Linked DNA regions of Homo sapiens. The protein of the gene in region 1 purifies or fractionates together with the protein of each later gene. This does not show direct contact. Each region holds a gene or a part of one and is shown in the gene's direction. Other genes may lie near its edges.

What was found.
Region 2: the proteins of PPIP5K1 (region 1) and ZC3H15 fractionate together in Homo sapiens (co-fractionation; one large-scale study listed by BioGRID). This does not show direct contact.
Region 3: the proteins of PPIP5K1 (region 1) and ZBTB8B fractionate together in Homo sapiens (co-fractionation; one large-scale study listed by BioGRID). This does not show direct contact.
Region 4: the proteins of PPIP5K1 (region 1) and NUP88 purify together in Homo sapiens (co-immunoprecipitation; one large-scale study listed by IntAct). This does not show direct contact.
Region 5: the proteins of PPIP5K1 (region 1) and MYH14 purify together in Homo sapiens (affinity purification with mass spectrometry; one large-scale study listed by BioGRID and IntAct). This does not show direct contact.

Annotation. Positions count from the first base shown.
Region 1 is NC_000015.10:43,531,560-43,537,277, reverse strand, and holds the end of PPIP5K1 (inositol hexakisphosphate and diphosphoinositol-pentakisphosphate kinase 1), read left to right. Parts: intron 1-1,023; coding exon of another isoform or gene 1,024-1,143; intron 1,144-1,801; coding exon 1,802-2,604; 3' UTR 2,605-3,803; downstream 3,804-5,718. UniProt on the Homo sapiens protein: Bifunctional inositol kinase that acts in concert with the IP6K kinases IP6K1, IP6K2 and IP6K3 to synthesize the diphosphate group-containing inositol pyrophosphates diphosphoinositol pentakisphosphate, PP-InsP5, and bis-diphosphoinositol tetrakisphosphate, (PP)2-InsP4.
Region 2 is NC_000002.12:186,489,260-186,495,860, forward strand, and holds part of ZC3H15 (zinc finger CCCH domain-containing protein 15), read left to right. Parts: intron 1-5,973; coding exon 5,974-6,075; intron 6,076-6,601. UniProt on the Homo sapiens protein: Protects DRG1 from proteolytic degradation. Stimulates DRG1 GTPase activity likely by increasing the affinity for the potassium ions.
Region 3 is NC_000001.11:32,491,121-32,497,721, forward strand, and holds the end of ZBTB8B (zinc finger and BTB domain-containing protein 8B), read left to right. Parts: 3' UTR 1-5,566; downstream 5,567-6,601. UniProt on the Homo sapiens protein: May be involved in transcriptional regulation.
Region 4 is NC_000017.11:5,388,629-5,395,229, reverse strand, and holds part of NUP88 (nuclear pore complex protein Nup88), read left to right. Parts: intron 1-248; coding exon 249-339; intron 340-3,567; coding exon 3,568-3,669; intron 3,670-6,269; coding exon 6,270-6,428; intron 6,429-6,601. UniProt on the Homo sapiens protein: Component of nuclear pore complex.
Region 5 is NC_000019.10:50,209,135-50,215,735, forward strand, and holds part of MYH14 (myosin-14), read left to right. Parts: intron 1-1,228; 5' UTR 1,229-1,231; coding exon 1,232-1,636; intron 1,637-6,601. UniProt on the Homo sapiens protein: Cellular myosin that appears to play a role in cytokinesis, cell shape, and specialized functions such as secretion and capping.

The DNA of each region.
Region 1 (5,718 bases):
CGCCTCCTGGGTTCAAGTGATTCTTCTGCCTCAGCCTCCTGAGTAGCTGTAGCTGGGATTACAGGCATGCGCCACCATGCCTGGCTAATTTTTTTTTGTATTTTTAGTAGAGGAGGAGTTTCACTATGTTGGTCAGGCTGGTCTCGAACTCCTGACCTTGTGATCTGCCCACCTCGGCCTCCCAAAGTGCTGGGATTACAAGTATGAGCCACCGTGTCCAGCCCCTCCTTTGATTGTTTACAGAAGAGAGATAACTAGCATACCTTCAACTCAATGATGGATTGAGCCTTTGTAGGCTCAGGTTTACCAACTTTTCAAGGTTTTCTTCAATGGCAATATGTTCTGATGTTCCCTTTTCCCAGAATCTGTCATTATTGATACCATAGTGCTTTAATATATCGTTATAATATTATCAACAAAAATGATGTTTACCAAGGGAAAAGTAGGTTAGTCAAGTACTAGAGGGCGATGAAGCAGTAGAGGATGGAGTAGGAATCATCCCACAGTGTAATTGAAGACTCTGAGGTCTTTATTACACTACTGTCAGGATGTAGGAAATCAGTTTTTAAATGTTTTCCGTGTATATAATATGCACAAGCCTGTAACATTGTATGTCCCAAGACTTACAAGCGTCTTAACTCTGGATCCATAGATGTGGTTTCAGGGTAGGGTCTGTGAGCTTCAGGAATCACATGTAAAGATTAGTGTGAATATTCTTATATAGATTTTTCCTGGAAGATATCTGACTTAGTACCTCAAAGGGGCCACTGACCCCTAGAAAGGTTAAGAACTGCCATGTAGAAATTCCATGGCCATCTTCCATTTTTGGGTAAACTATTTTCTTTTTTTTTTTTTTTCTGAGACAGAGTCTTGCTTTGTTGCCCAGGCTGGAGTATAGTGGCACAATTTCGGCTCACTGCAACCTCCACCTCTGGGGTTCAAGTGATTCACCTGCCTCAGCCTCCTGAGTAGCTGGGATTACAGACAGCCGCCACTACGCCTGGCTAATTTTTGTATTTTTAGTAGAGACAAGGTTTTGCCATGTTGGCCAGGCTGGTTTAGAGCTCCTGACCTCAAGTGATCTGCCTGCCTCGGCCTCCCAAAGTGCTGGGATTACAGGCGTGAGCCACCGCACCCAGCCAGGTAAACCATTTTCTTTCCTATTGTTCTGATTTACATGGTTTTTCTACATTCTTCTGCCAACTTATCATTTGGGCTATAAATAATGATTACCTCTGCCCCAGAAATACATTGATTGCTTTAAAGAATGATTCTTAACAGAAGGTGTACATCAGATTCAAATGAGAGTGTTCCAACAAAATTATATTGCCTTCTTCCTCCTCCCTCCTCCAAACTACACCTTTACGCTAAACCTATAGAATTAGAATCTCTGGAGTTGAAAACTGGAAATTAGTATTTTAAAAAATTTTTTCATGATTTTGTTTATGAACCACTGGGCTAAAGTATTCATATGCTTCCAAAGTAGGAATGAGAGGCCTTGGGAACTTGGAATTGGGATGGGAGTGTATTTGTGAAAGAACCAGATGAAGTGGGTCTTAGCACTCTCTCCTGAAGTCTTAGATGTACCTTATTGTTACTCTCAAAGTATACATTAGGCCAGGGTGACAGTTCCTGAGGTAAGCAAACTTAGGAGTCTCTGCTTAACTTAGGAAGAATTTGGACACTCTTCCCTCAAGACATAAGTAGCATAGGCCAACAATTCTAGCATTTGAACTATCTGCACAGGGTAGAGCCTACTCTTCCAGCTTCTCTAACTTGATCTCTTGACTTTGCTTTACAGACAGCAGTGGCCCTTCTAGCACTGTGTCCAGTGCTGGTCCTTCTTCCCCTACTACAGTAGATGGTAACTCCCAATTTGGCTTCAGTGATCAACCCTCCCTAAATTCACACGTGGCTGAAGAACATCAAGGCCTTGGGCTGCTCCAGGAGACCCCTGGGAGTGGAGCACAAGAGCTCTCCATAGAAGGGGAGCAAGAGCTTTTTGAACCAAATCAGTCCCCACAGGTGCCACCTATGGAAACCAGCCAGCCATACGAGGAGGTCAGCCAGCCATGTCAGGAGGTCCCTGACATCAGCCAGCCATGCCAGGACATTTCTGAGGCGCTCAGCCAGCCATGTCAGAAGGTCCCTGACATCAGCCAGCAATGCCAGGAGAACCATGACAATGGTAACCACACATGCCAGGAGGTCCCTCACATCAGCCAGCCATGCCAGAAGTCCAGCCAACTGTGCCAGAAAGTCTCTGAGGAAGTTTGCCAGCTATGTCTGGAGAACTCCGAGGAGGTCAGCCAGCCATGCCAGGGGGTCTCTGTGGAGGTTGGCAAGCTGGTCCATAAGTTCCATGTAGGGGTTGGTAGCTTGGTCCAGGAAACCCTTGTAGAAGTTGGCAGCCCAGCTGAAGAGATCCCTGAGGAGGTCATCCAGCCATACCAGGAGTTCTCTGTGGAGGTTGGCAGGCTGGCCCAGGAGACTTCTGCGATCAATCTGTTATCTCAGGGCATCCCTGAGATTGATAAACCATCCCAAGAGTTCCCTGAGGAGATTGATCTGCAGGCCCAGGAGGTCCCTGAGGAGATAAATTAGAAGTCCTGGGTGGTCCCTGAAGTGATTGATCAGCTGCCTGGAGAGGGTATTCCTCAAGCCCAGCATCCATCTGGTGATCCAAACCCTCAGAGCCAGTCTCTAGCCCATGACCAGCACTCACCCCTTCCACCAGCAACATGTGATTAATTTTCTCATTAGTGGTATCACACTATACCAGCCATTTGAGCCAGCAACCTTTTCTGTTGGCTAACTCACTGGCCAGCTCTCACCAGCGGTGTCTGGGGAAGTAGTTCTCTTTGTATGAAGCATACCTGTGCCAGAGCTGTGGTTGAGGAGGAGCCAGTTTTAGGTTCGAAGAAGCCATTGGCTCCTCACTTAGCCATTAGACTTGAATAGGATTTCCTTGGGGTGGGTTGGTCTGTCATTACCCAGCCTTCTCTGAGCATCCTAGGAAATCACAGATTGTTAAAGGAAATGCCGCTTCACTGCTGAAGACACCATCTGGCGACAGCAAATGCAAAAGAGGGGACTCTAGGGTCTTCACTTTTCTGGGGAAATGTTCACGACTTCTCAAGGTACGCTTAGACCATATGTGCATTCAGGGGACTCTTGTCTTTGCCAGCACTCCTCAGGTGAGCCCGGGATGGCTATCTGAAATGTCTGGAAAATAGAGTCCCTTCCCCAAACATCTGACATGGCCACTAAATCTTTAGACTTGCCTTATAGATCCTTCCATATCATCCCCAAGTGCCCCTTCTGCCTCAGTCCTGTTCCTCTGGGCAATAGCTCTAGGGAAAAGTAGGTATTAGACTGCTGTGCAAAATTCAGAGCAACTACTTAAAATGCTCTAGAGGATTCTTAGCCAGTCTGTGAAAGTGGGCCTCCTCTGTGGTGGGGCTGTTTGGCTTAGGAGATGCTGTAGTAGTAGAGATAATCAGGTTCTATTTTAAGCAATCAGCAGAGATCAATATTGTACAGATACAAGCAAAGGTTTAATAAATATATATATATATATTTATTTCTGTAGTTGTGCCAGGGACAGACTGGCCAAAGACCAAACACTGCAGGGTCCCCAAGAAATTTGTCCTTATATCATTGTGTCTGAGGGCCAGATATGATTATGAAGCTTTTTCCAAAGATCCAGGGATGGGAATGGGAGTGGGTAGGAGGGGTAATGCGGTCATTGGAGTCGGGGGCTGGAACATTATGAGTGCTCAATAAATATAAACTAATGAGAATGGTGGTGATGGATGATGGTGATGTCCTTGTGAATTCAAGAATGAATATAGGCTGGGCACGGTGGCTTACACCTGTAATCCCAGCACTTTGGGAGGCCAAGGCGGGCAGATCATTTGAGGTCAGGAGTTGGAGACCAACCTGGCCAACATGGTGAAACCTTGTCTCTACTAAAAACACAAAAATTAGCCAGGCATGGTGGTGGACACCTGTAATCCCAGCTATTCGGGAGGCTGAGACAGGAGAATCACTTGAACCCTGGAGGCAGAGGTTGCAGTGAGCCAAAATCACGCCACTGCCCTCCAGCCTGGGCAAAAATGCAAGACTCTGTCTCAAAAAAAAAAAAAAAGGAATACGACTATGAGTCAATTGTGTCTGTAACTGATTAATCTGAATCGGTCAAAAGCCATTATAGTTGAGCAGGAATGGGCTGTAAAAATACAGAGATCAGGCATCCAAAAATAGACTATAAAAATATAGAGATCAGCTGGGCGTGGTGGCTCACATCTGTCTGTAATCCTAGCACTTTGGGAGGCCGAGGTGGGTGGATCATGAGGTCAAGAGATTGAGACTATCCTGGCCAACATGGTGAAACCCCATCTCTACTAAAAATATAAAAATTAGCTGGGCATGGTGGCACATGCCTGTAATCCCAGCTACTCGGGAGGCTGAAGCAGGAGAATTGCTTGAATCCAGGAGGTGGAGGTTGCAGTGAGCCAAGATCGCGCCACTGCACTCCAGCCTGGTGACAGAATGAGACTCTGTCTCCAAAAAAAAAAAAAAAAAAGAGAGATCAGGCATCCCAAGAGGAGCCTATGGCAGTTAACCCACTATCTCAAAAGGTATTTATTTATTTATTTAGAGACAGAGTCTCGCTCTGTCACCCAGGCTACAGTGCAGTGGTGCGATCTCAGCTCACTGCAACTGCCGCCTCCTGGGTTCAAGCGATTCTCCTGCCTTAGCCTCCTGAGTAGCTGGGATTACAGATGCCCGTCACCACACCCAGCTAATTTTTTTTGTATTTTTAGTAGAGACGGGGTTTCGCCGTGTTGGCCAGGCTGGTCTCGAACTCCTGACCTCAGGTGATCTGCCCGCCTCGGCCTCCCAAAGTGCTGGGATTACAGGTGTGAGCCACCACGCCCGGTCCCCAAAAGGTCTTTATTGAGTAAGTAGAGTGTTGGATGGGGGACTGGAAAGAGGTTCCCTCTCTGTGAAGCACCAGAGGGTACATGCCTTCTCACCAAGTTCTTGGAATCATCCTGTTAATTTTTCACTCTGATGGAGTGTCAGGAGGAGTTTATATAAAGGGGCTATGCCCTTTCTCTGCTCCTTTGACATCTTTACCATGAGAGAGCCCAGAACAGTGGGAGGGCTAGAATATGCCCCTCCCCAAATATACACATTCATAACCTGGCCACTTCTGACATACTTAGGACTATAAAGGGTTTCCATGGAGGAGGAAAGTCGACCGTTTTACTCCATGGAAATCCTGACTGCACAAGGAGAGTTGTTTCCAACCTCATTAGGCTCTGGATCTCTTAGGGTCCTTCAGCTTTTTACCCCTTTAGCCCAAGAGGCTGTCCAGGGTAGCTGATCCTGGTTATTTGGTCCTCAACTCTTGACCCCACGGAATGCATATCCCCTTCCCAGGAGGCCTTCTGCCCCTCTTCCCTCCCCCAGACCAGATGTATGTATCCACCCTAGGCTCCTATTCTTCATACTCAGGCACAAGTGTTTCCAGTAATCAAAAGCATTGGAGTCTTCCAAGATAAATTCAATACTGGTTGAAGCAGAGAGGTAGAAGCCAGGGCCCAGTAACTAAGCATGTATGGAGTCAGAAAAAGCCTAAGCAGCACTACACTATCTGCAATGAACTTGGTTTATTGTTAGAGTTGGAGGTGGCTCCGTTACAGCAGC
Region 2 (6,601 bases), on another chromosome or scaffold:
TGAATTGTAGTGTTAAGTTACAGCATTTGTGAAATTAGATTTATAGAGACTATTCTGTTATTCAGCCTGGTTAGGAAATGATATAGTCTGCTTCATTATATAGGCAACTTTTTTTTTAAACTTCCCTAAAAGCCTAGCACGTCTCAGTGACTATTCCAAGAAGATAATTGATCTCTGTGACTGTTATAATTTTGGAGGGGGAAATACTACTTTTTTATAGTCTATTTTGACATATAAAGACTGATACTTATTTCAGAATCTGGTTAACTTTGGGAGGTTTTATAGCTGTATGACCTGAAATTCTAAATTGCTCAAAATTAATAGTTAACTAAAACATGTATTTTTAAGCAGCACGTTTCAATAGACTTGAAAATAATGGTTGTCCTACCTACCTCTTTCCTCTTCTGTACCTGTTCTGCTGCCACCTCTATGGACCTTCACTGTGGAAAAATCAACATGCAGGTTTTGGGAACTCTAAGGAAGTAAAAGAGACATCAGATAGCATAAATTAATGAAAGGAACACTAGCTTTGGAGTCAGAGACCTGGGTTTGAGTCCCATGTTTCAAATTACTAGCTCTATAGTTTTAGACAAGTTACAAAATCTAGCTGGAATGCAATTCTCATCTGCAAAATGCAGCTAGTTCCCGTGAGTTAAATGAGATAATACATGTAAAGTGCCTGCCATATGGTGTATATATTCAGTAAATGGCAGCTATTGTTATTGCCTATTTTGATAGTGTATTATAAATAAAAACTAGGGGACATCAGACTGATCTGCACAGTCTATACAGTGCTTAGTTCCTGCCCATTTTTTAATATTGCCTCCATTTTTTAATATTGCCTCCATTTTTTTTATTTGCCTCTTCAAATGCCCCAAAACTTTATGAATTCATTTGTATTAATACTTTCCGAAATGAATATGTCAAACAGGATTATGGTTCTGTTAGAAATTAACACATTAGTCTGAAATGGCATATACCATTTGCTTTCTTACAACTAAAATTTAGTGACAAATGGAGTCAGTATTGAGCAATAGAAAGTTTGAATATGGAAAGAAGGAAATAATCTTGGACTTAGGGCAAGCAAATAAAAGATACCCAGCTAAGAACTTGTATCAGCAAGGAAATAGTAATAGGGACCTATAGAGACAGGATCCAGGTGTCGTGAAAGATGGAGCAAGAGAAATTGGTTGCCAGTGTAGAACAGCTACCAATAGCCAAAATCAAATGTTGATTACTTGAAGCTGGATTAACCAGTTGCATAATATATATTGCATGGATGGACAACAAGAATACATTAGTGCATTTGGGAGAAAACTAATGAGGGAAAACCGTGACAGCTTCTGCCTACCCGAATGTCCCAAGAGGGTAGACTCCATTATCTTGGAGCACTATTCAGTGTTGACCTGCCCTTCCGCTGCTTCCCTTTTTCCAAACATCTTATTTAAGCAGTGGAGGCTGGCCCGTAAAAGGAATGGGATTACGTACGGATGGGAGGGAAGTTTTAAGTGAAGCCTGGAATTTACTGAGTGTTAAGGCTCTTGGAGCCTCAGGAAGTCATCCTTTTCTTTCGAGACTCCTCTGTATTCATGTCCCAAGTTGTCTTCTGAAACACACATAAACACGCAGTTCCTTTACTATCATGTTAACTTTTGGGACCTTATTAATCCAATGAGGACCATTATTCTCCTAGTTTTATTTTAACTGTGGTTTGGGGTTGACTGTAACCTCCTTTTTTTCTACCTTGTAATTCAGGTTAATCTTTAGGTAGGGCTCTGTCCTAAACTCAGGAAGAAGCCTTTTTGAACTTCTCCAAATTGCAAATCATTCTGTTTTCAAGAGGTGCTATTGGTATCTCAGATCTGCAGTGTGATATTTAGAAAGGTTATTGCGCACCAACCAGCCCAATAACTTAATGAGGTTTCTCTGGGAAGTAGTTTATTAAAAACTGTAGAAGGAATTTGCTTGGAGTCAAATATACCTAGGTTCAAATATCATCTGTCACTTAATAGTTAACATTTACTGGCCCAGACAAGGTTCTCAGTGTTTTGGGGAGAAGGAGAGAAGAGAGACAAGCCAACTACAAGTGATAAATATACTAGCTCCTTTGATTCTCTCAGTGGGATATGTATTATTACCCTTTTTGCAGTTTTGAAAACAGGCATAGATATTAAATAACTTGCCCAAGTTTACTAACCTGGCAAGTAACTGTGCCAGGGATTCTAACACAGGAAGTCTGCCTCTAGAGTCCTTGCTGTCCACCACTGTCTCTCTGAGGTAAATCTTTTAACTTTCACAACAACCCTAAGTGAGACTCACTTTACAAATAAGAAACTGTGGCAAAGAGGGTAATTTACCCAGCTCTGTTTGGGATTAAAATTTGGGCAGTCTGGCTCCAGAGTTTATGCTTCTAAATGCTTGCACTATACAGCCAGCCCCTTATTAATGACTTAACTTCAAATGAATTTATCATTTCTGAGTTTCTGTGTATCATAGAATTGTTGAGAGGATTCAATAAAGTATATATTCAGGGGTTATGTTTATGTTTAGTGAATACTAGATAAATAAGTGTCCCCTTTCTCTGTGGAAAAATGTTAATTTCTGAGCTCTAACTTAGAGGTGAACACAACTCACTTATTATCTCTTTAAACTGGTTATTTATGTGCCAGAGCAGTGTAATGAAACCTGATTTTTTTTTTCTTCTTCTGGGATCGGGAGTTTATACACCTTTACCAGAAACTGCCATTGTGAGTGCTTTCTTTTCTTACTGGCCAGGTCCCCTTAGGGGACATTTTTCTTTCCTAAGTCTATCTGGCAGTATCTGCTTTGCTATTTGGCCTTATTTATTCATTGTTTCTTCTCTGTAGTTACAGATGGAGCATGGGTTGAACCGCAGTTTATTTTCTCTGGCAGAGCACCTGTAGATGCTGTTTAATCCTGATCATATTTTTTTCTAGAGCCTCCTCTCCCTCCCGTGAGAGCTCACTTTTTGTAAAGGAAAAGTATGGCATTTTATACTTAGTTGCTGCACTGTGTTCATCTGTATGTATCACATTATGTTGACCATCTTTCTTCAAATTGAATTGAGTGTTAAACTTTCTTTATAGAAACAAGGGAAGCCATCCGTAAAAGGCTCAGTGCAGAAACATCCAGCTTGTTTGTGCTTCTTACCTTTTTTCATACACATAGGCTGTAGAAAATTCATGTAGAATTTTGTATAATACCATGTTGGGATGTTAAATCATGAAACAAGCATTTAAGTAGAGGAAAGCAAAGTTTTGGTATATGGATATAGATGTCATGAATAAAGAGATATTTCCCAATGAGAGATAACCATTTAGAAGCAAAACCCTCTGTACTTTTTTGTCTTAAGACTATTGAAAGATCTTTTACTGATTTTGAGGTTGCTGTAAACATTATGTCATGTTGTATGTTTTTAAATACTAATTGTTTCAGTACTATTGTTTTCTTTTTCTAGCTTGTCCACGTGGTGGTATTTTGTATCTATTATTCTTTCTACTCATTATTACTTTTCCTTTCCCTTAGAAATAATAGCAAAATAAAGGCTATAAAATGGCCACTTGTTTCATACTAAATGCCACTCAGAGGGTCTCAAATTACTTTGAGAAGACCTTTTTGCCTCTTCTTCCTCTCTAAAACCACCCATAAACAAGAGAATGAGAAAGAAATACAAATTCTATTTTGAAATTAGAAGACATCTGTAATCTTGGACCTCAGCATATGAAGATTGGCAGTAGATGGATGAGTTGGTAACTGACTTAGAGCAGAGCGGTTATGTCTGAGTGCCTGTCTAGGAGTGTGCCTGTAAGAAGCAAGTGCATTTCCTCTGCAAAATTATGAAAAAAAAAAAAAACTCAACAATGGGAAGCACTAGGTAATACAGAAGGCAAGAGGCTGAAAACTAGAAGTTAAAAGTGTTAGGAGTAATTAATAATTCTTATCTACTACAGCTCAGCCAGGTGACTACCTCTGCAAGAAACAGGAGGGGTCTTCTTGGAGGTGGGAGGTGGCAGAGAACAGGCCTCTCTGCTTCTGGAACACTAAGCACAGAGGAGGTGGGATGTGAGCCTGAAAATGGAAGCTAGTAAGTCTGTACAGTAAACTGAGACCCCTTCTACCTGCTCTTTTCTCTTGTTTACAGTTAGACTTATTGCCCTCCCAGCTGGAGGATCTTTCTCCAGAGAACCAGAAAAGACCCAGAAAAAATATTTCAGATATTAGCATTTGGTTTCTTGTCAGGCTTGTCACACATTCACCTTAGGGAGAAGCTCACTAGTCAAGCCTGCTATATGAGTTTCTTAGAACTGCTGTAACATGACTACAAACTGGGTCACTTAAAACAACAGAAATTTATTCTCTCAGAGATCTGGAGGCTAGAAGTCTGAAATTAGTGTCAGCAGGGCCATGCTCCCTCCCTCTGAAGACTGTAGGGAAGAATTCTTCCTTGCCTTGTCCTAGTTTCTGGTGGCATCTGTCAATCCTTGGCATTCTTTGGCTTATATAGCAGTGTCACTCTGTCTTCACATTTCCTTCACTTTGTGCCTGTGTGGTCCTTATTAAGGCACCAGTTATTGGATCTAGGGCCTACCTTAATCTAGTATGATGTCATCTTAACTCATTACATCTGTGAAGACCTACGTCCAAATAAAGTCAAATTTATGGTCAGGTGGACTTGAATTTTGGGGGACATTCCAAAATTCAGCCCACTACAGACCACTGCTCCCCTCCACACACACGCTTGCTCATACTTGTGCAATGGCTTCTATATGTTTTTGTACTGCATACTTATTTTTTTTAATGTTTTTCTCCCCCCAACCCCATACTGCATACTTACTAAATATGAGTAGATAGCCAAGGATCACCATTAGTGCTTAGCACATAATGAGCATTCCATAAGTGATAGCTGCTGTTATATTGAATATTACCAAGTTACTGTATTAATATTCCAGATTTAAAGAAAATGTTGCTTTTAATTTACATACTTTTAGTATTTCCATCTTAGCAATAACTAGGAATGTATACATTTCAGTAGTTTGATTTCTTTATTAAATTTAATTGTTTTTGAGAGGATAACATTTATTAACTAAAAAACCAGTCCAGAACTGAATGTATCTTCCTCTTCTTATGTAGTAGTCCCAAAAATGTGTTCAGTATCGTATAACCTCTCAAGATACTCTGAGTAAAAATGGATTCTGCTACAAAGGATGATTTGGAGGTGCTGCATATTATTATATTCCCTCTGATAAGGGCTGTAAGATACCTTGTGCTTAAGAATTAAGAATCCTTTTAATCAAGCATTTTCCTAAATGTATTTAACTACAGGACTTCTTATCCCAATATAAGAACTTTGCACATCCCATAGAACTGATATCCAAAATATGCTTTAGAAAAAGCTTCATAGAAACTGGAAACCATCATTCTTAGCAAACTATCGCAAGGACAAAAAACCAAACACCTCATGTTCTCACTCATAGGTGGGAATCGAACAATGAGAACACTTGGACACAGGAAGGGGAACATCACACACCGGGGCCTGTTGTGGGGTGGCGGAGGGGAGGGATAGCATTAGGAGATGTACCTAATGTAAATGACGAGTTAATGGGTGCAGCACACCAACATGGCACATGTATACATATGTAACAAACCTGCACGTTGTACACATGTACCCTAGAACTTAAAGTATAATAAAAAATATATATAAAAATAATAAAATTTAAAAAGCTTCATAGAATAACAGGTTTAATGATGATAATGTTGAGTACATATTGAATTGTAAAGAATCTGGGTGATGATTTAAGGTCATATATTGCCTTGACTTGATGTTTAGTGTTTTGCATGTTTTTATATTAGTAAAGAATAATTATCAATAAAAATAATGATTTTTAGATATCATTGGAGGATATATATGGTAACATAAATTGCTAAGATATTTCTGTGCTCTTTCTCATGTAGGACAAAACTTTCGGTTTGAAGAATAAGAAAGGAGCAAAGCAACAGAAGTTTATCAAGGCTGTCACACATCAAGTTAAATTTGGTCAACAAAATCCACGTCAGGTAAGTAATTTAAATGTCCATATCTTTTTATAAATGTAATATTAATATAGCCTCTGTTTCAGATAAAATGTCTGGTATTATTATATAATTGTATTTCAAAACAGAATCCTACTTGAAATGTTTTTGCACCTTGGCCTTCCTTACCAGCAGTACCTCTTGGATATTGTCCAAGCCATTTTGATATAACTCTCATTTATTCTAATAATGATTGCATGCCGTTCTACAGTACAGGTGTGTTATATTCATCTATTTCACTGTTCATAAGTGATCACTTTGTTTCCAGCTTTCTGACACTAAGACCACCTGTAGAAATACAGGAGTTCTTACATGTGTTTATGCTTTTATTTCTGTGGCATAAATTAGCTGGTAACAGACTCCAGATCAAGGGAAATGGATTTCTAATTTTAACATTATAAATTTGCCAGATCACTTTCCATAGAGGCTGTAGTACTTCACATTTTCATTTGTAGTACATGAGCAATAGATACTAAAGTTCTTTTTAATGTGTTACAATCTGATAAGTATA
Region 3 (6,601 bases), on another chromosome or scaffold:
GATTATGTGCTTTGATGAGGAAGGTTTAGTAGTAACAAGCTTGGGGATTTTGAAGGAAGGCATCAATTTCATATACAGGTCTTGGTGACATGTAATGGATATGGATTATCTGTCATGCATACAGTGAAGGGTATGGTCAGGATTTTTTTGGAAGTAGAAAAACATACCAAACAGTTTCACATCTTTTACCATCCATAGCCCCTGAGGAGCATCTACTGCCATCAGAAAAACATGCAAATAATACTGCAGTGCCCTCCAAGGGTCTTAGGCCCAACTGAAGGTTTAGAAACATTCAAATTTATAAACTGCCACACTTGGCATCAGATTCACTTAAAAGGATATAGAATGGGAAGCACTGCTTACTAGCAAGGCAGAACCAGTTGCTCTTCTCTGAAAGTCTCTGCAGCTGTCTGTGTGGCATAGTGCAGGTGCAAGGAGACAGATCTACATGGGGCAAGTATGGAAGCTTCCCCGGCTTAAGAGCCCCTTGTCCCACAGGAACAAGTATCTCTTATAACAGCTTCATAGACATGGCCTCCAGTGTCCCTATAAAAGACATGCCTGTTCCAAGCGTCACTGTACTTAGGGATGCCCAGAGCTGAGGCTTCCTATCAGGCATTTATAGTTCTCCCAGTCCAGATGCAGTTTACCAATTGGGCATCATGTCTACCATATGTAACATTGCCTAGCAGTTGACATATGAATTTTTATTAGGTTGCCAGGGGAACAGAGCTAGAAAGTTAACAAAGGTAAAATTCTCATGCAGAAGGGAAAGAGGCTTTGTTAATACTTTGCCAAACACTATGCTAAGCAATTGCATAACAGATATTACACCTAATTCCTATAGAATATAGCCAGAGGAATTTCCTAGTAAAATATAACCCACCCTAACTCATTTTTCCTTTCTTGAATAGTGTTGTTGGTGCTTAGTTGCTTGTGATTAATAGACAGTTTGCAAATTTTGGTAAGGTGTGTGTAAGAGTTGGCTTAACAGTCAAAATGATCCTAGCCAAAATATCATGTATCCTTTGGTGTCACTCATAATAGGTGAGTATAGTATGTCGTACTGTAGGGACATTATTGAATGGACATGTCTGAGTATTCCATCAGTCATATTTTGATGGGAGCCTTTGGCCATCTGGCAAACACCAAACACAGGCTCTTGGTAACCGTGCCTTTTTTTTTTTTTTTTTTTTTTTAAAGATGGAGTTTCACTCTTGTTGCCAGGCTGGAGTGCAGTGGTGCAATCTCGGCTCACCACAACCTCCGCCTCCTGGATTGAAGCGATTCTCCTGTCTCAGCCTCCTGAGTAGCTGGGATTACAGGCGCCCGCCACCACGCCCGGCTAATTTTTGTATTTTTAGTAGAGATAGGGTTTCACCATGTTGGTCAGGCTGATCTCGGCCTGACCTCAGGCAATCCGCCTCTGCCTCCCAAAGTGCTGGGATTACAGGCGTGAGTCACTGCGTCCGGCCTGCTCTTGGAAACCGTGCCTCTTATTCCTGTGTCATGTGGTGCTACTCTTGCCTGCTTCTGTTGCTCCCAGCAGATCAATGAGTGAAGATGGCTGGTTACTCATTCAGTAGTTATCAAACAATTATTTATGGAGTCTTTACTGTATGTCAAGCACGAAGGGTACTTCAGTGAACCAGCACCATCCCTGCCCTCAAGGATCCTGCAGTGTGTAATCACAGAGACTGGCAGTTATAACACGGCATGTTGGGTGTGACAACAGGGACAAGCACAGGGTACTCTGAGAACGCGTGGGTCGGGTACCTAGCCAGTCATAGAGCCTCAGAGACGCTTTCTGTCTAAGCTACTCTTCCTATCCAGTAAACTTCCAGCTTTGGCATACTATATTTATAAGCAGTTTAAACAGTTGCTGAAATTTATTGCCTTTTCTCAAACATGGTGGCTTTGGTCACTAACAGTGTTTAAATTATGTGTTTTATTCAGTTATGCAAAAATATATACTATACATAGAATATCAGAATGTTGTAGTCTTTAGGAAATATGCATCAGGTTTGTTTTTTTTGTTTTTTTGACAGACTCTCACTCTGTCGCCAGGCTGGAGTGCAGTGGCGCGATCTTGGCTCACTGCAACCTCCGTATCCCAGGTTCAAGTGATTCCCCTGCCTCAGCCTCCCGAGTAGCTGGCACTACAGGCGTGTGCCACCACGCCCAGCTAATTTTTTGTATTTTATAAGAGATGGCGTGTCACCATGTTGACCAGGATGGTCTTGATCTCCTGACCTCGTGATCTGCCTGCCTCAGCCTCCCAAAGTGCTGGGATTACAGGCGTGAGCCACTGTGCCTGACTGGGTGGTTTTCTTTTTTAAAAAATAATATGGTTTTCTGGCCGGGAGCAGTGGCTCATGCCTGTAATCCCAGCACTTTGGGAGGTCAACGGGGGTGGATCACCTGAGGTCAGGAGTTAAAGACCAGCCTGGCCAACATGGTGAAACTCCGTCTCTACTAAAAATACAAAACAGGAGAATCGCTTGAACTCGGGAGGTAGAGGTTGCAGTGAGCTGAGATAATGCCACTGCACTCCAGCCTGGGCGACGGAGTGAGACTCCATCTCAAAAAAATAAAAAATAATAATAATATGGTTTTCTTATTTAAAAAATAATATAGTATGTAAATTATTTTTCAAGTAAAAATGAAATGACAACAACAGATAACTTCCCATTATGTTGATCCAGTGTACTGTGACAGATGGGGAGGAGCCCCACTGCATCTGGAGTGGGTCTTGGCTGGCCATGTGAACTAATTAATACCCCAGAAATCAGGATACATGCCAGGCGTCGGGGCTTACGCCTGTAATCCCAGCATTTTGGGAGGCTAAGGTGGGTGGATCCCTTGAGGTCAGGAGTTTGAGACCAGCCTGACCAACATGGTGAAACCCCATCTCTACTAAAAATATACAAAATTAGCCTGTAATTCCAGCTACTTGGGAAGCTGAGGAAGGAGAATTGCTTGAGCCCAGGAGGTGGAGGTTGCAGTGAGCTGAGATCACACCACTGCACTTCAGCCTGGGCAACGAGAGCAAAACTCCATCTCAAAAAAAAAAAAAAAAAAAAAAAAGAAATCAGGATACATATAGGACAGAACCATTAAATCAAGAGATTTGAAAGTTAGAAGGGACAGGAGAGATAGTCTAGTCCAACTCCATGTGACAGATGAAATGACGTTTCTAGTTCTCACACAGCTGGTTAGGATCAGAAACCAGGTCCTGCCAGGCCAGTCCTGATAATAGACAGACATGTTTGGGCAGGCAGAAAAGACCATTCATAGATAACATTTGTTTCCCTGGGTATCCATCAGACCAGAGGCACAGGAGAGGAAAATGCTGTTTTGGCCTCATATGATAAAGTATGCATTGTGTGATTATGGTCTGCATTCTTGCAATGCTTAGACAGGGAGGGGGAAATCACATTTTGAGCATGGGGGAGTTAATTTCTTTGTCCTGTAATACCACACATATCTAAAACATAAACCACCATGGAACACACTCACACTCACATACACACAAAAGGCAAATTAAAATATTTATTGTCCACTTAATATGTGTTCTGTGTTTGATTGTAATGTATTCATTTTACTTATAAAAAATTTCAAAAGTAAAAATATATATATTATTAACTTGAAGTGATTTTTTCCAACCTCGCTGATTTTTTTCCTTCTTTCTTTTTTGAGACAGAGTTCCACTCTGTCACCCAGGCTGGAGTGCAGTGGTGCAATCTCGGCCCACTGCAATCTCCGCCTCCAGAGTTCAAAGAGTTCTCATGCCTCAGCCTCCTGAGTAGCTGGGATTACAGAGGTATGCCACCATGCCCGGCTAATTTTTGTATTTTTAGAAGAGATGGGGTTTCATTTTGGTCAGGCTGGTCTCGAACTCCTAACCTCAGGTGATACACCCGCCTCAGCCTTCCAAAGTGCTGAGATTACAGGTGTGAGCCACCATGTCCGGCCTCTAACTGATTTTTGAAATATAAATTGGGTGTGATTCAGGGAATGTAACAAGAACAATCTTATTTGAAACAGAAAACCACATATTTTTAAGTCAGCAGCCCACATGATAAGATGGTATTGAGTAAAAATGTATTCTTAGGTATTTCTTGACTCAGTGGATTTTAATCAGTCTACTGCAAAAGCTAGTTTTATTTAAAGGGCTGCAATTATATATAAGAATTATTAGAAAAACAGATTAGCCACTTAATCTAAAAATACCTAGATGCAGTATTCCTGGTTTTTAATGAAATATTTATCTAGTTTGGGATTAAAATTAACTTAGGGCCATCAAAAATGCAAATTATCTTTAATTTGGTTAAATCAACCTGGGAGTAAATGGAAATAATCTCAAGCTAAATTTTTGTTTTGATTTATATACAGTCAGATTGAAACACCCTAGTTACAAGTTTAGAATAGGAGTGGCCTCAACAAAGGAAAAAGTCCTTTGTTCCTCTGTTGCTCATTTTGTCCTCGGAAACAAATACAATTTAACTATTTTCTGTACCGTCCCAAATTTGAAGCTGACCTGAATTTGGTACCTATAAATTTAAAATGGCTAAGGTTAAAATAGTTAAAACAGTTTCTTTAGAATGAGTTGTTAGCTGGGTGTGGTAGTGTACACCTGTAGTCCCAGCTACTCCAAAGGCTGAGGCAGGAGGATTGCTTGAGCCCAGAAGTTCAAAGCTGCAGTGAACTAGGATCATGTCACCACACTCCAGCGTGGGCAACAGAATGAGACCCTGTCTCAAAAAAAAAGGTTTTTTTTTAATTGAATGAATGCAATAAGGAATTGAGGATCGTCTCACATTAATGAGTGAATAACCCTTCATAATTTTAGTTACTGTTTTTCTCAGGGCAATTATTTTATATAAAATTCTAATGGAGAATTTTATGGACAAGATTTTAGTTAAGGAAAAAAATAACCCCACAAAATAAAGAGAACTATTAGAGCTCTAAACAGAAGAAGCTTCCATCAAACCGTTTTTCCCACTTTTTTGTCCCACGGTCTTAGGACCAACAATTTAGTAATACGAGACAATTTCTGGCAGACTATCCCAAGCTGGGACATTTTAGATTCTGTGAAAGAAGACTGACTACTGTCTGATGAATGGGTAATTGATGATGCAATGTATGAAAAAAGTAAGGCAGACAACTCAAAAATCACAGGAAGTGCAGCCATTCTACGTGCCGAGCTCTACAGTTACACACTGTCCAACAGCTCTCGGAAGAAAAACAGAAACTGACTTTATCTTTGCCTGCCAAGTTTGCAAATGGATTAGTTCATTACAAAGGCACTTGTCAAAACATATTTATTAAAAAGAGGAGCCAGAGTTGGAAATCATCTTGACCATTAAAAAAATAGCAACTGATACCTTGTTTAACAAGTAAGACAGTTTCTGCTTTTTGGAATTGAATTGGTTTTTAAGTGGTAATGTACCAGGTCTGTTTATATAGGTCAGTGTTGCCCAGGTTGTATTGTTTTGCTGTTTTTACTTTTTTATATATAAAGAACTAAAATTACGAGAGAATAAATTCGTGGATATAATCTAAATCTGATTTCTCCTTTCAGTTGTTTGGCATTCCATTTTTTATATAAATCTTTAAGACATATGTGCATATTTTTATTTTAAAAATTATTTCTGCTTAAACAACAGTTTCAAATATTTCTCTTTTGAAGACAAAATTGGTTTAGTTTCAGCAATGTATTGATATAATTTTACATTTTTTTAAATGTTGAGGCTGGGTTTATTTAAGATTAGCTGGGCTCGCTGCCTGCTCTTAAGAAAAACATGTATAGCCTATAAATTTTTAAAGGATTCCCATAATAATATAGAACTGCTAACACTAAATATGTTTCCATCTGTTTAAAGACTCATTAACTTCATTTAGTAATAGGAAAAAAAGCTACTAGGTAGAACAGGGGTTAGGCTAAATCCTGCTTGCTGCCTGTTTTTTTGGTAAATAAAGTTATATTGGAAGACAGGCACATCCATTCCTTTTTGTCATTGTTTATGCCATCAATGACAAAGGTGAGTGGTTGCTACAGACACCTTTATCCACAAAGCCTAACATATTTACTATCTGGCCCTTCACAGAGAATTGCCTACCTATGATGTTGGGTGGGACAGGAGATCTTTTATTCCTTATGTAGGGATGATGGAGGTAGAATAAGTCCCTACTTTGGACCAATCTGTGAGCATCACTAGGATTTAAACATGTCTGGTATGTATGAAGGTCAGTGGAGCGGGCACCGCTGATCTGTATGAAGTTTTTTTAGAGAAGTCACTAGAAGGATCTGGCCAGGAGAAAGATGGTCACTTGGCTCAGCTCCAAGGAAGTATGCCTAAGCCTTCCGTTTGAGAGCTACATGCAGAAACTGAGCATGATCTATAATCTTGGTGAGATGCTAGGAGTTCAAACTGTACTGCTTTTTTTTTTTTTATTTAAATACTGCTGCAATGCTTTAAACACCTGATGCCAGGTAGGAGGGCAGGGGCATTGCCCTGCACTTCCGCAATACTGCATGTCCTCAGGGTGTTCTCAGTACAGGTGTGGCCCAGGCAGGAGCAAGAGAGGTTGAGTCCCT
Region 4 (6,601 bases), on another chromosome or scaffold:
AAGAGAATGATTTCACTGTTCTTAGTGAAACATTTTTGCATTCAGAGACATTACGAAGGAAAATCCTACTTCTTGGGGCGGAAATCTAGACCCCCTGGGAAAGCGTATGCCTATGTCAGAAAAGCATAGTACTTGAGAAGCAATGTTTTCAGACAAGAACCTCACTGCATTTAACCCAATATCATTAGCATTTTAATTTGGAGACTTGTCTAAGCATCATTTCATTTATGTAATGTCTTCCATGGTAGATGAAGAAGATAAGGATAGTTTACAGGAACTCTCTACAGAACAGAAATGCTTTGTTGAACACATCCTTTGTACGAAGCCATTGCCCTGCAGGTAAGGACTCTCCCTCCCTTGTATATCAGAAAACAATTGTTCATTTCAGCAGTTCAGATACGTTTGTATCCGTTACACTCACATCCACAGTATTCACTGCTGAGTCATTTGAAAGTTGCAGACGTGATACTTCTCCCCTAAGAGTGTCCTGCTCATCAGAAGCTTTCTCCTCTCCAGGGCCACTCGACATACTGTTTCCTGACTGGAAGGTCCTTCCCCAGCCCCAGCCCCAGCCCCAGCTTGCTGTCTTCTCTTGGCTAACTCCTACCCTTCTTTCTGATCTTAATGTCACTTCTTCACAGAGAACACCCTTGACTCCCCAGTCTAACTTGGGGCTCTCCTATTCTCTTATCCATTGTAGCACATATTACACTATTTATATTTGCATTTTTTTAATGTCTGTCGCCACTACCGGAATGTATATGTTTCATGAGAGCAGAGACTGTGTCTGCCCTTCACTGCATTGCTGTGTTTATTTGATGTGGTTGCCCATGTCTCCTCTTTGAAACACATTCTCCTTGGCATCCTTGACGTCTGTCCCTCCAGGTTCTCCTTCAGTCCCGCCAGCAGCCCTTTTCTCAAGTTTCCTTCTTGGGCGGGTTCCTCTGCCTCTACTCACTGCTTATAAGTAATGCTCACAACTCTTTCCTTGGGTCTTCTCTATTCTTTCTAGGTCCTTTCCTGAGTAACTTCTGCCGTAATCATGGCTTCAGTGCTGACAGTTCCCGCATCCATATCGCCCTAGCCCAGACCACTCTGAACTCCAGATTCACATACCCAGCTGCCTACTGGGCTCCTCCACTTGGATATCCTATAGGAACATAAAACTCCAGATGTCCCCTTAACTCATCTTCTGTCTTTCCAAATCTGCTCTCTCTCCTGTGTCCCATTTTTCTGAAGGGTGCCATATCACCCCAGTTATCCCCAGTAGAAACCTGGAAGGTATTCTAGATACCTCCCTTTATTCTGTTCATCAATTACTAGATATCTCATAAGCACTCTGTTAGACATGGAGTATACACAGACATGAGACAAATAGCATACACTAAGAAATAGACATAATCTAGGTTTGGCAATACAGAGGACCACAGGGAAAACGCTTGGTGGGGAATGAGAAGGATAGCAAACTGTACCAGCTTGAAAAGTGAACAGTGAAACCAGGCACTGTGGCTTACGCCTATAATCCCAGCATTTTGGGAGATCGAGGTGGGTGGATCACACGGTCAGGAGTGCAAGACCAGCCTGGCCAAGATGGTGAAACCCCATCTCTGCTAAAAACTACAAAAATTAGCCAGGCATGGTGGCAGACACCTGCAATCCCAGCTACTCGGGAGGCTGAGGCAGGAGAATTGCTTGAACCCGGGCAGCACAGGTTGCAGTGAGCTGAGATCATGCCACTGCACTCCAGTCTGGGTGACAGAGTGAGACTCCATCTCAAAAAAAAAAAAAAAAAAAGAAAAGTGAACAAGGAAAATACATAATAAAATCCCATGTAGGCTGGGCATGGTGGCTTACACCTATAATCCCAGCACTTTGTCAGGTGAGGCAGGAGGATCACTTGAGGCCAGGAGTTTGAGACCAGCCTGGGCAACATAGTGAGACCCTTTACAAAAAAATTTAAAAATTAGCTAGGTGAGGCCAGGCGTGGTGGCTCACGCCTGTAATCCCAGCACTTTGGGAGGCTGAGGCAGGCGAATTACTAGGTCAGGAGTTCGAGACCAGCCTGGCCAACGTGGTGAAACCCCGTCTCTACTAAAATACAAAAAAAAAATTAGCTGGGTGTAGTGGCGGGCACCTGTAATCCCAGCTACTCAGGAGGCTGAGGCAGGAGAATCGTATGACCCTGGGAGGTGGAGGCTGCAGTGAGCCAAGATCATGTCACTGCACTCCAGCCTGGGCAACAGAGTGAGACTCCGTCTCAAACAAAAAAAAAAATTAGCCACTGTGGTAGCATGTACCTGTGGTCCCAGCTACTCAGGAGGCTGAGAAGGAAGGATTGTTTGAGCCCACGAGGTCAAGGCTGCAGTGAGTCGTGATCGCACTATTGCACTCCAGCCTCGGCAACAGAGTGAGACCCTATCTCAAAAAAACCCCAAAATCCCATTTATATCAATTTCAGAAACAGGTAAAATTAAACAGTCTTGCCTAGGAGTGAATACATAGATAGGAAAACTATAAAGCAAAGCAAAGACATGATATTATGAATGTCAGAGTAGCGGCTACTTCTCTGGGGAGTGAAAGGCTATGACCAGGGAAGGTCGCATGGGAACCCTGAGGCCCCCTGCAGTGTCCTGATTCTTGACCTGGATACTGGTTACATAGTGTATAGCCCAGTAGTGTGTAGATTTCACACTGATAATAAAAAGTTAAAGTTTACAACCTTCCAGATATCGTCTCCATGTCTTGTCCAAAAAGGTAAATGGGAGCTATGGAAGGGGAACTAGTGTTTTCAACTGCTGTTTAAAGACTGCTGGTTCTAAAGGGATGGCGAGAAAGAATAGGTTAAGGGGAACTGGACATTATATTGAAATGAGAGTATTTTAAATGGAAGAGACATGAGTTTGCAAGCTGAGGGGAAGTAGATAATAGGGAGATTTTGAAACGACACAGTTGATGGTACAATTTTCAGAAGGTGTGAGAGGAGGCGGCATCCACATTCGGGGGCAGATGTGTGTTGTAGGCATGCAGGTGGGATGGGCATGGGAGCCGCTAGGAGAGCATGTTGGCAGAATGACAGTTCCCATCTGAGGTCTCAGTTTCCAGTGTCTTCACTGAAGTGGGAAGGAAGACTGAGAGAGATACACGCTGTGCGTGCCAAGTGATTTCCTGTGACATTGACATTGGGCCTCATTGAGAGAGACTCGGTAGTTCTGTTCATTCAACAGTTTCTAAGCACTTAATTTGTTAGCACTGGGCTAGGCAAACAAAGATAGCTGGGGCTTATGTGCAAGTTGGAGAGATCTTCAGTGTAACGTGTAACTTTTGAGATTACAGTCAGCAGCACGCTACAGTTAGGGATTCCTGAGTGACTTAGTCACATGGGCTCTAGACTTTAGTGTGGAGCTGCATTAAAGGTTTCCAAGCCACCACTTTTGAGGTTATGGTACTGATAGGATGTCCCAAGCAACTTCAGCCCAGGCCTGAGAAGGCCGCGGACCTGTCATGTCTTTGCTCTTGGTTCCATTGCATTTGCTGCTTTGTAATTTAACTATGACTGTGTTTTTCCAGGCAGCCAGCTCCAATTCGAGGATTTTGGATTGTACCTGACATTCTGGGACCCACGATGATCTGCATCACCAGTACCTATGAATGCCTCATATGGCCGTTATTGTACGTCCCATTTTATATTCTCCACACAGCTCTTGTTAATTCTGCAATATCTAAGTTGGGAAAATGCACTCAGTAACCAACTTGAAGCTATACATGTGTGGTTTATACTTTGGCTTCTGACTTGAGGGTTGGAAGGATGGATATTTCTGTTCCTGCCATCATCTCTATAAGGTTTCATTGTAGGTATAGTTTCTGGCATCCCCTGCACCTAGCTGAGAGTCAGGAGCTTTTCTTCAGAGTGTGGAGAAAAAATACTAAAATTGAATACCAAATTCCATTATCGATATGAGTAATAATTATCAAGCTGTGACCATACGCCAAGCTCAGAAGTAAGCCACGTACCCGCACTGCCTCCTGGAATCATCAGGGCAGCCCTGTAAGGAAGGCACTGTCATTTCCATTTTATAAAAGTGGAAACGGGGATCGAGAGGTTAGTAAATGCTGAAGTCACAGGTAACAAATAGAGCTGGGATACAGATGCAGGTCTCATTGACTCAGAAGTCCATACTCATACTCTTTAATTTCTCCATCTCTGCCAGCCTGAGGGACACTGTAGACTATGTAAACTGGAATAAAGCTGAACTCAGGCTGGGTGCAGTGGTGGTTCATGCCTGTAATCCCAATGCTTTGGGAGGCCCAGAGTTCGAGATCAGCCTGGGCAAAACAGTGAGACCCCCATCTCTACAAAAAACAAAAAAATTAGCCAGGCATGGTGGTACACATCTGTAGTCCTAGCTGCTCAGGTGAGAGGATTGCTTAAGCCCAGGAGTTTTAGGCTGCAGTGAACCATGATCATGCCACTGCACTACAGCCTGGGTAACAGAGCAAGACCCTGTGTCTTTTAAAAAAAAAAACAAAAAAGCTGAACTCTTAGTCTTTGCTCCTTTAAGGAACTCAGATAATTAAGCTGTAATCACTATGTTCCTTTTCCAACAGCCCTGGAAGATCATTCTGAGTTACATAAATGTAGGAATATGAGTACCAAAAACAAAAGTCACTGGAGCTTCAAACACTAGACAACACCCCCACCCCTTGTCCGTTCAAAGCTTGCACCTCTGGATGCTGACATAAATTCCTAATACTGGCAGTAGTTTACTGTCCTTAGAGGATCTTCCATAGTCTTTGAAGCTTGATTAAGTTGTACTATCTGGATGTAAAAATAAATATAAATTTTGTGTTATTTACACTGAAGGCACTAAAAGCTAGCAAGACCAAACAAAAATAATAAAATCACTGGAGAAAAAATTACCTGTAAGTTACCTCAGCATACTTTTTAAACACCCACAGTACATTTAGTAAAATAAAACCTAGTCACACTAGCTTACTTCAGAATAAATATGAATCCCAAAGGGGAAAAATAAACATTAATTGTCTGGATATTTTTTTTTTTTTTTTTTGAGACGGAGTTTGCTGTGTTGCCCAAGCTGGAGGGCAGTGGCACGATCTCAGCTCACTGCAACCTCTGCCTCCCGGGTTCAAGTGATTCTCCTGCCTCAGCCTCCCTAGTAGCTGGGATTACAGGCGCACACCACATGCCCAGCTAATTTTTATATTTTTAGTAGAGATGAGGTTTTGCCATGTTGGCCAGGCTGGTCCTGAACTCCTGACCTCAGGTGATCCACCCACCTCGGCCTCCCAAAGTGCTGGGATTACAGGCATGAGCCACCGTGCCAGGCCAATTATCTGGATACTTTCAGATCATATTTCTGCCAACTCCCTGAAATACAAGTTGTCTATAAAGTTATGCTATTTCATGAACTTTCACTTTTTTTTTTTTTTTTTTTTGAGACAGAGTCTTGCTCTGTCACCCAGGCTGGAGTGCAGTGGTGTGATCTCAGCTCACTGCAACCTCCGCCTCCTGGGTTCAGGCGATTCTCATGCCTCAGCCACCCAAGTAGCTGGGATTACAGATGTGTGCCACCACACCCAGCTGATTTTTATATTTTTAGTAGAGACAGTTTTACCACGTTGGCCAGGCTTGTCTTGAACGCCTGACCTCAAGTGATCCACCTGCCTCGGCCTCCCAAAGTGCTGGGATTACAGGCGTGAGCCACCACGCCCAACCAAACATTCACGTTAGAATTGTTGCCTTCAGAGTAAGTCACTTGCCATGCTGCCGAAGTCTGTGAGATCTTTTAAGCTCTTTTTGAAGTTTGAGTATTTGCACTTGACTGAATAGTTTTTAGAAATGAAATTATATAGAACCAATATGGTATATACAGCAGTTTCTTGGCTTAATATTGGTTTTGATCAACTCTAAACCTAACAAATAAGTAATTTATGTTTGTGGCTCCGGCTTATAAACTGGCTTTCAAGTCCTTTGCCAAGAATCCATGCTAGGTGTTTGTGCTGCCTTGATCTTTTAGAAAAGAACTGGAAATGGCAGTCAGAAATGCTTTCACAAATCAGGGGCATTGGAATAATAAGGGTGTAGCTTCCCAAAGTGACCTTTTCAAGGTGGAAAACATGCATTCTTGCACTTTTACAAAAGTTACACTTTATTTTATATTCTGAAAGTTCTGGATTAATGTGGTTTCTGCTTTCCTGTAATACAGTAAATCACTCCATGGTAGAATTCAATTTACTTACTTATTTTGCAGAAGTACAGTCCATCCAGCGTCTCCTCCCCTGCTTTGTACTCGAGAAGATGTTGAAGTGGCAGAGTCTCCCCTCCGTGTTCTGGCTGAAACCCCAGATTCCTTTGAAAAGCATATTAGAAGCATTTTGCAACGTAGTGTTGCCAATCCAGCATTTTTGAAGTATGCAACCTTGGGCATAGCGGTTTTATGAATGGGTTCTCTTCTGTCTTCAGAATTACTGTGCATCCTTTCTGTCCTCATCTGTTTCATATACTTTTTACTGTGATAAATTTGGAAGAAACTGGATATATTTGATCAGCTAGTGAATGGGGAGCAGGAGGGAAGTGGCACCT
Region 5 (6,601 bases), on another chromosome or scaffold:
GCAACGGAGTGAAACCTCATCTCAAAATAAAATAAAATAGATTGAATTTAAATGAATGAAATTGAAAATGTGTTTCCTCAGTGACACATGCCACATTGCAAGTACCCGGTAGTGCACAGGTGGTGGTGGCTTCTGCAGTGGACAGCCCGGGGCTAGAAAGTAAACTTTTGGAGGCAGGCGTCTTCTTCCAGCTTGTCTGTTGCTCCATTGTCAGTGCCCAGAACTGAGCCTGGCCAGGAGTGGTGGCTCACGCCTGCAATCCCAGCACTTTGGGAGGCTGAAGAGGGTGGATCACCTGAGGTCAGGAGTTCAAGACCTGCCTGGACAACATAGTGAGACCCTAATTTCTACAAAAATTGAAAATAATTGGCCAGGCGCGGTGGCTCACACCTGTAATCCCAGCACTTTGGGAGGCCGAGGCGGGCAGATCACCAGGTCAGGGGATCGAGACCAACCTGGATAACACAGTGAAACGCTGTCTCTACTAAAAATAGAAAACAATAGCCGGGTATGGTGGCAGGCGCCTGTAGTCCCAGCTACTCAGGAGGCTGAGGCAGGAGAATGGCGTGAACCCAGGAGGCGGAGCTTGCAGTGAGCCGAGATCGTGCCACTGCACTCCAGCCTGGGCGACACAGTGAGACTCCATCTCAAAAAAAAAAAAAAAAGAAAATAATTAGCCGGGGCCGGGTGTGGTAGCTCATGCCTATAATCCCAGCACTTTGGGAGGCCGAGGCAGGCAGATCACCTGAGGTCAGGAGTTCGAGACCAGCCTGGCCAACATGGTGAAACCCTGTCTCTACTAAAAATACAAAAATTAGCTGGGCGTGGTGGCAGACGCCTGTAATCCCAGCTACTTGGGAGGCTGAGGCAGGAGAATCACTTGAACCCTGGATGCCGAGGTTGCAGTGAGCTGAGATCACGCCATTGCACTCCAGCCTGGGCAACAAGCGAGACTCCGTCTCAAAAAAAAAAAAAAAAAAAAAAAAAAAAAAAAGAACTGACCCTCTGAGCCTGGTTCACAGCCTAGCTTATTAAAGAATGAATGAGTGCCTAGAGAGGTGAATGAATGAAATGAGTAAGCTGGGTCTGTTAACCCACTTTGCAGAAGTATGGCAAGAGGTCTGGTAAAGGAAGGCAGAGGTGGCTGCCTGGGGAATTTGGGGTAGGGAAGGGAGGCCCGGGGGACGGAGCCCCATCTGACCCCCACCCTCTTTCTTTGCCCCTGCAGACCATGGCAGCCGTGACCATGTCGGTGCCCGGGCGGAAGGCGCCCCCCAGGCCGGGCCCAGTGCCCGAGGCGGCCCAGCCGTTCCTGTTCACGCCCCGCGGGCCCAGCGCGGGTGGCGGGCCTGGCTCGGGCACCTCCCCGCAGGTGGAGTGGACGGCCCGGCGTCTCGTGTGGGTGCCTTCGGAGCTTCACGGGTTCGAGGCGGCGGCGCTGCGGGACGAAGGCGAGGAGGAGGCGGAGGTGGAGCTGGCGGAGAGCGGGAGGCGGCTGCGACTGCCGCGGGACCAGATCCAGCGCATGAACCCGCCCAAGTTCAGCAAGGCCGAGGACATGGCCGAGCTGACCTGCCTCAACGAGGCCTCGGTCCTGCACAACCTCCGGGAGCGGTACTACTCCGGCCTCATCTACGTGAGTGGGCTCCTGCTGGGGGGCGCGTGCGGCGGAGTTGCTGCCGGTTGGGGAACCAGGTCCACCACCCGGCTCCCCTGCATTAACTTGAGGCTGTTTATCATCTGTATCCCATGTCCCGTGACTGTTCCTACACTTACATGGTTGCCAAATTATGAATTGTTGGATTACTAGGACAGCCTCGGAACCTACTGGGGACATTGCATGATACATATGGTAGATAAACTGTATTATTTTCCTAAAGTATAAAACGTTCCAATTTCTCAGATATAGCTCATCCCGAGTTTTAAGGAACGGAAACAGATGTGTGACAATCATTAATGTGAATCACTGAGTATAGAAATGTGTTGCTTGAGGTTCAAGACCAGCCTGGGCAACAAAACGAGACCCTATCTCTTAAAAAAAGATAAATTAGCCAGGTGTGGTGGTGGCCCGTGCCTTTAGTCTCACCTTCTAGGAAGACTGAGGCAGGAGGATCACTTGAGCCCGGGAGGTCAAGGCTGCAGTGAGCTATGATGATACCACTGCACTCCAGCCTGGGTGACAGCACAAGACCCTGTCTCAAAAAAAGACAAAAAGCAAAAACCTTATGCTAGGCTCTGTGCTAAATGCCTATCTATTAATTCATTCAATCTCACCATAGGAAAGATAGAGTCTATTATTATTACCATTTTACCTAAGAGGCAAATGAGGCCCAGAGAGAGTTAATAACAATAAAAATGAACATTTATTAAACATTTACCAACCATTCTTCCAAGCTTTCTAAAATACATTGCCTCTGTACATTTTCAGAATTATAAAGCATCTGATCCTCATTTTACAGGTAAGAAAACTGAGGCACAGAGAGTTCAAGGTCACACAATTAGACCTGACAGAGCCAGGTAGTCTGTCTTCTCACTTTGCTGTGGTGCCTCTTAAGATTGAGATGGGGCTGGGAATGGTGGTTCATGCCTGTAATCTCAGTACTTTGAGAGGCTGAGGTGGGTGGATTGCTTGAGCCCAGGAGTTCGGGACCATCCTGGGCATGGCAAAACCCCATCCCTGCAAAAAAAAAAAAAATACAATAAATTAGCTGGGCATGGTGGCACACTCTTGTAGTCCCAGTTACTTGGGAGGCTGAGGTGGGAGAATCACCTGAGCCCTGAAGGTGGAGGCTGCAGTGAGCTGTGATGGCGCTACTGTACTCCAGCCTGGGTAACAAATCAAGACCCTGTCTCAAACAAAACGAAACAATACAAAAACCCATTGAGAAGAGATTGATGATACTTAGGTTGACTATGGTAGTCTTCCCACGTCTGTGCTAAGCATTGGAGGTTCGTTGCATTTTTAAAACTCTTTACAGCAAACGGATGGGGTAGAGCAGTGGTTCTTAACCCCACCTCTATGGTAGAATCATTTGGGGAATTCTTAGAAAATACCAGTGACGGAGCCCCACCCCAGAACTTTCAGTCGAGCTCTCTGGGGCTGTGACATGAACATTGGTATTTTTAATAAGCTTCCAAGGAGGTTCTAATGGGCAGCCAAGGGGTTATTAATTTCATTGAACAAAAGAGCAAACAGGATTAGAGAGATTGACAAGGAATATGGACAATCATAATGAAAAATAATAATAAGAGGAGGCTAGCAAATATTTAATCGAGCACTCGTGATGTGCCAAGCACTGTTCTAAGTGTGGCGTGTGAGTTATCAGCTTCCCTCTGGGCCAGGGACTGCTGATATCACCTGATGTTCAGGATGTTAAGTGACCCACAGCCATGAAGGAATCACGCCAGGATTTGAACCCAGGCAGCTGGTTCCAGAGTCATGCTCCAAACTCTAGCTTAGACTGGTGGGGTCTCACAGCTTTGCTCCAACATCCACCCCTCTGAGGTTCACAAAGCGGAAGATTAGAATATTTTTGTGAAGTCCCACTCCTACTTGGAGATCGAGGCTCTGAGATAAGCAGTGGCTGGCTCAGGGTCCCTCAGCTTGTGGTGGCAGGTGTGGAATTTGAATCGAGGGCTGTCGGACCCTGCATGGGGTTGGTGTCTTCTCCAGTCTGCACTGGCCCTTTCCAAATCCTCAAACACCTTTACTAGCCCTGGAAAAGAGGCCTCTACATGATCCACTCCCCCACATCTCACCCAAGGCCACAGACATCAGGATGACATCCAAAACATGGATCCACTAGTTGCCTTTTATTCATTTATATATATTTTTTGAGACAGGGTCTCACTCTGTTGCCCAGGCTGCAGTGCAGCAGCATGATCTTGGCTTACTGCAGCCTTCACCTCCTGGGATCAAGCAACTCTCTTGCCTCAGCCTCCTGAGTAGCTGGGACTACAGGCGCCTGCCACCAGGCCCAGCTAATTTTTGTATTTTTAGTAGAGTTGGGGTTTCACCATGTTTGTCAGAGCTCGAACCTCTGAGCTCAAGTGATCTGCCCAACTCAGCCTCTCAAAGTGCTGGGATTACAGGGGTGAGCCACTGCATCCGGCCACTCTTTGCCTTTTAATAAATACTCTGAGCGCTCCCAGCAACCTTGTAAGGTATCTGCTGTCATCCCCGCTCTGCAGGTGGGGAAGCTGAGCCTCAGACTAGGGGGCAGGATTTGAACATAAGCCCCACAACTAGGAACCAGCTAAGCTAGAACTTGAAACCAGGTCACTGTGACTGCAGACCCCAGGTCCTAGCCATTGCACTAGGAAGATTATTCAGAAAGTTCAGGAGAAAAAGTGGTAGGGCCTGAGCTAAGGTGGTGGCCAGGGAGCCAGACTTTTGGGGCCTAAGAAATGAATGTGAGAGAGAAGATTCTAGAATTCCAGACAGGAAGCACATTGGGCCTTAATAAAGATCATTAGCACTTAGTGAGTACCTGCTTTCTCTGCTGGGTGCTGTTCTAAATTTCTTTCCAATATGATCTTATTGACCCCCTCCCCATCCACATAAGGTTGTGAGGTAGGGATTATCACCCTCTTTTTCCCACAGCTTGGAGAGGGGAAGCCATTTGCCCAACAGAAGCTGATAGTGGCTAAAATATTGAGCATGCAGTGTTTCAAGGTCCATGTTCTGTTTTTTGTTTGTTTGTTTGTTTTAGACATAGCCTTGCTCTGTCACACAGGCTGGAGTGCAATGGCATGCTTACAGCTCACTGCAGCTCAACCTCCTGGGCTCAAGTGATCCTCCTGCCTCAGCCTCCTAAGTAGCTGGGACTACAGGCACATACCACCAAGCCTGGCTGATTTTTTAATTTGTTGTAGAGACAGTGTTTCACAATGTTACCCAGGCTAGTCTCAAACTCCTGGACTCAAGTGATCCTCTTGCCTGGGCCTCTCAAACTGCTGGATTTACAGGCTTGAGCCACTGCTGTGCCCAGCTGGGGTTCACATTAAACCCTCTGCATGCCACATGAACTTGTGGATGACTCCCAGGCACCTTATGTAGGAAGCACTATTTCTGTCCCCGTTAGCTAAAGACACTGAGACCCTGAAAGGTTGCTTGCTGGAGCCACCTGGCCTGAAAATGTTACAGGTGTGATTCAAACTCTGCCCTATTTAAGACCTGTGCTTAATACATGTTTGTTGACTGACCAACTGATGATGGGGATGGTGGTGTTGTCCAGTGAAAAGTGGGACATCCAGGGCTCCAGAAACCCAGTTTCTGCCACTAATAGGCTGTTTGGCTTTGAGTTGCTAAGAGTCTCAGTCCCTTTCCTGGGACCCTTGGGGCAGGGAGGGAACCCCTTCGTAGAACACCCCGCTCTGAGAAACACGGAAGATGCATTATGTGATTTCACACTCAGAACACTTCTAGGTGATGGGTTAAAAGCCGCATTTTCCAGGGCTGGAAACTGAGGTTTAGAGAGGACACATCCTTCATTCAAATTCACACACAGCTCAAAAATGCTGCATCTGAATTTGAACACTGGATGGCTTCAAAGTCTGAGTGATGAGCCTGAGAGTTTGAGGCTGCAGTGAGCCAGGATCGTGCCACTACACTCCAGCCTGGGCGACAGAGCCAGACTCTGTCCCACCCGCCCCCGTCCAAAAAATTCCGAGTTAGCCTAGGGCTCCCAGGTAGGATGAGTGATGTAAGAGTCTCCAGACCCATATCTGGCGTGTGTTGCATGGGCCCCGCCTCGGCCTGGCTGGTTTTTATCCATGATCTCCCCTAATCCCCACAGCCTTTGTAATGAGGTGGGGAGTGTCGCCCTCGGTTTCCCAAGGAGGAAACTGAGACTATGGGGAAAGTCACCAGGCTGAGGGGAGCGGGGGGGCAGGTCTGTCTTCAGAGCCCCGAGGGCTGGAGCAGCCATTCCTGACCCTTCCAGGAGGGCTTCCCCAGCTGTCTCCCACCCTGTGGGGGTGCACCAGCCTTTGTTCTTCCCCCCAGCCTTGTTGACCAGCTCAGGTTTCCGTTCCCAGGGTGTCGCCCTGGAAACAAGGTGTGGCTGGCAGGAGGGGCCAGGGTGGGAGGGTGGCGTGGGGAGTGGGTTCCTCCGCCAGCCAGGAGTGGGGGCCGGGGCGCCGGCAGCCATGAGATACCCTCCCAGGGAATGTGGTCCGGCCGCCCCACCCTCTGAGAGCTGGGGGGAGCTCCCGGAGCAGCCCTTTCAGGCAGGGAGGGCAGACACCCAGCAAACCGGTTGTTCTGCTCCTGGCTGGCCACCCAGGCCACCCACCCTCCCACCGTTAGAAGGTTGGCACCTGGGACCAGGCAGCCTGTGGTGGCCACACCCTACTGTGCTTGAGAAGCTCAAGCTCCCTGGGAGCTTAAAACAGTTCTGCTGGCCGGGCACAGTGGCTCATGCCTGTAATCCCAGGCATGCCGGGGTGGGAAGATCACTTGAGCCAGGGGTTCAAGACCAGCCTGGGCAACATAGTGAGACCTGATCTCTACAAAAAGTAAAAATTTTAAAAATTGGCCAAGCATGGTGGTGCATACCTGTGGTCCCATCTGCTTGGGAGGCTGAGGTGGGAGGATTGT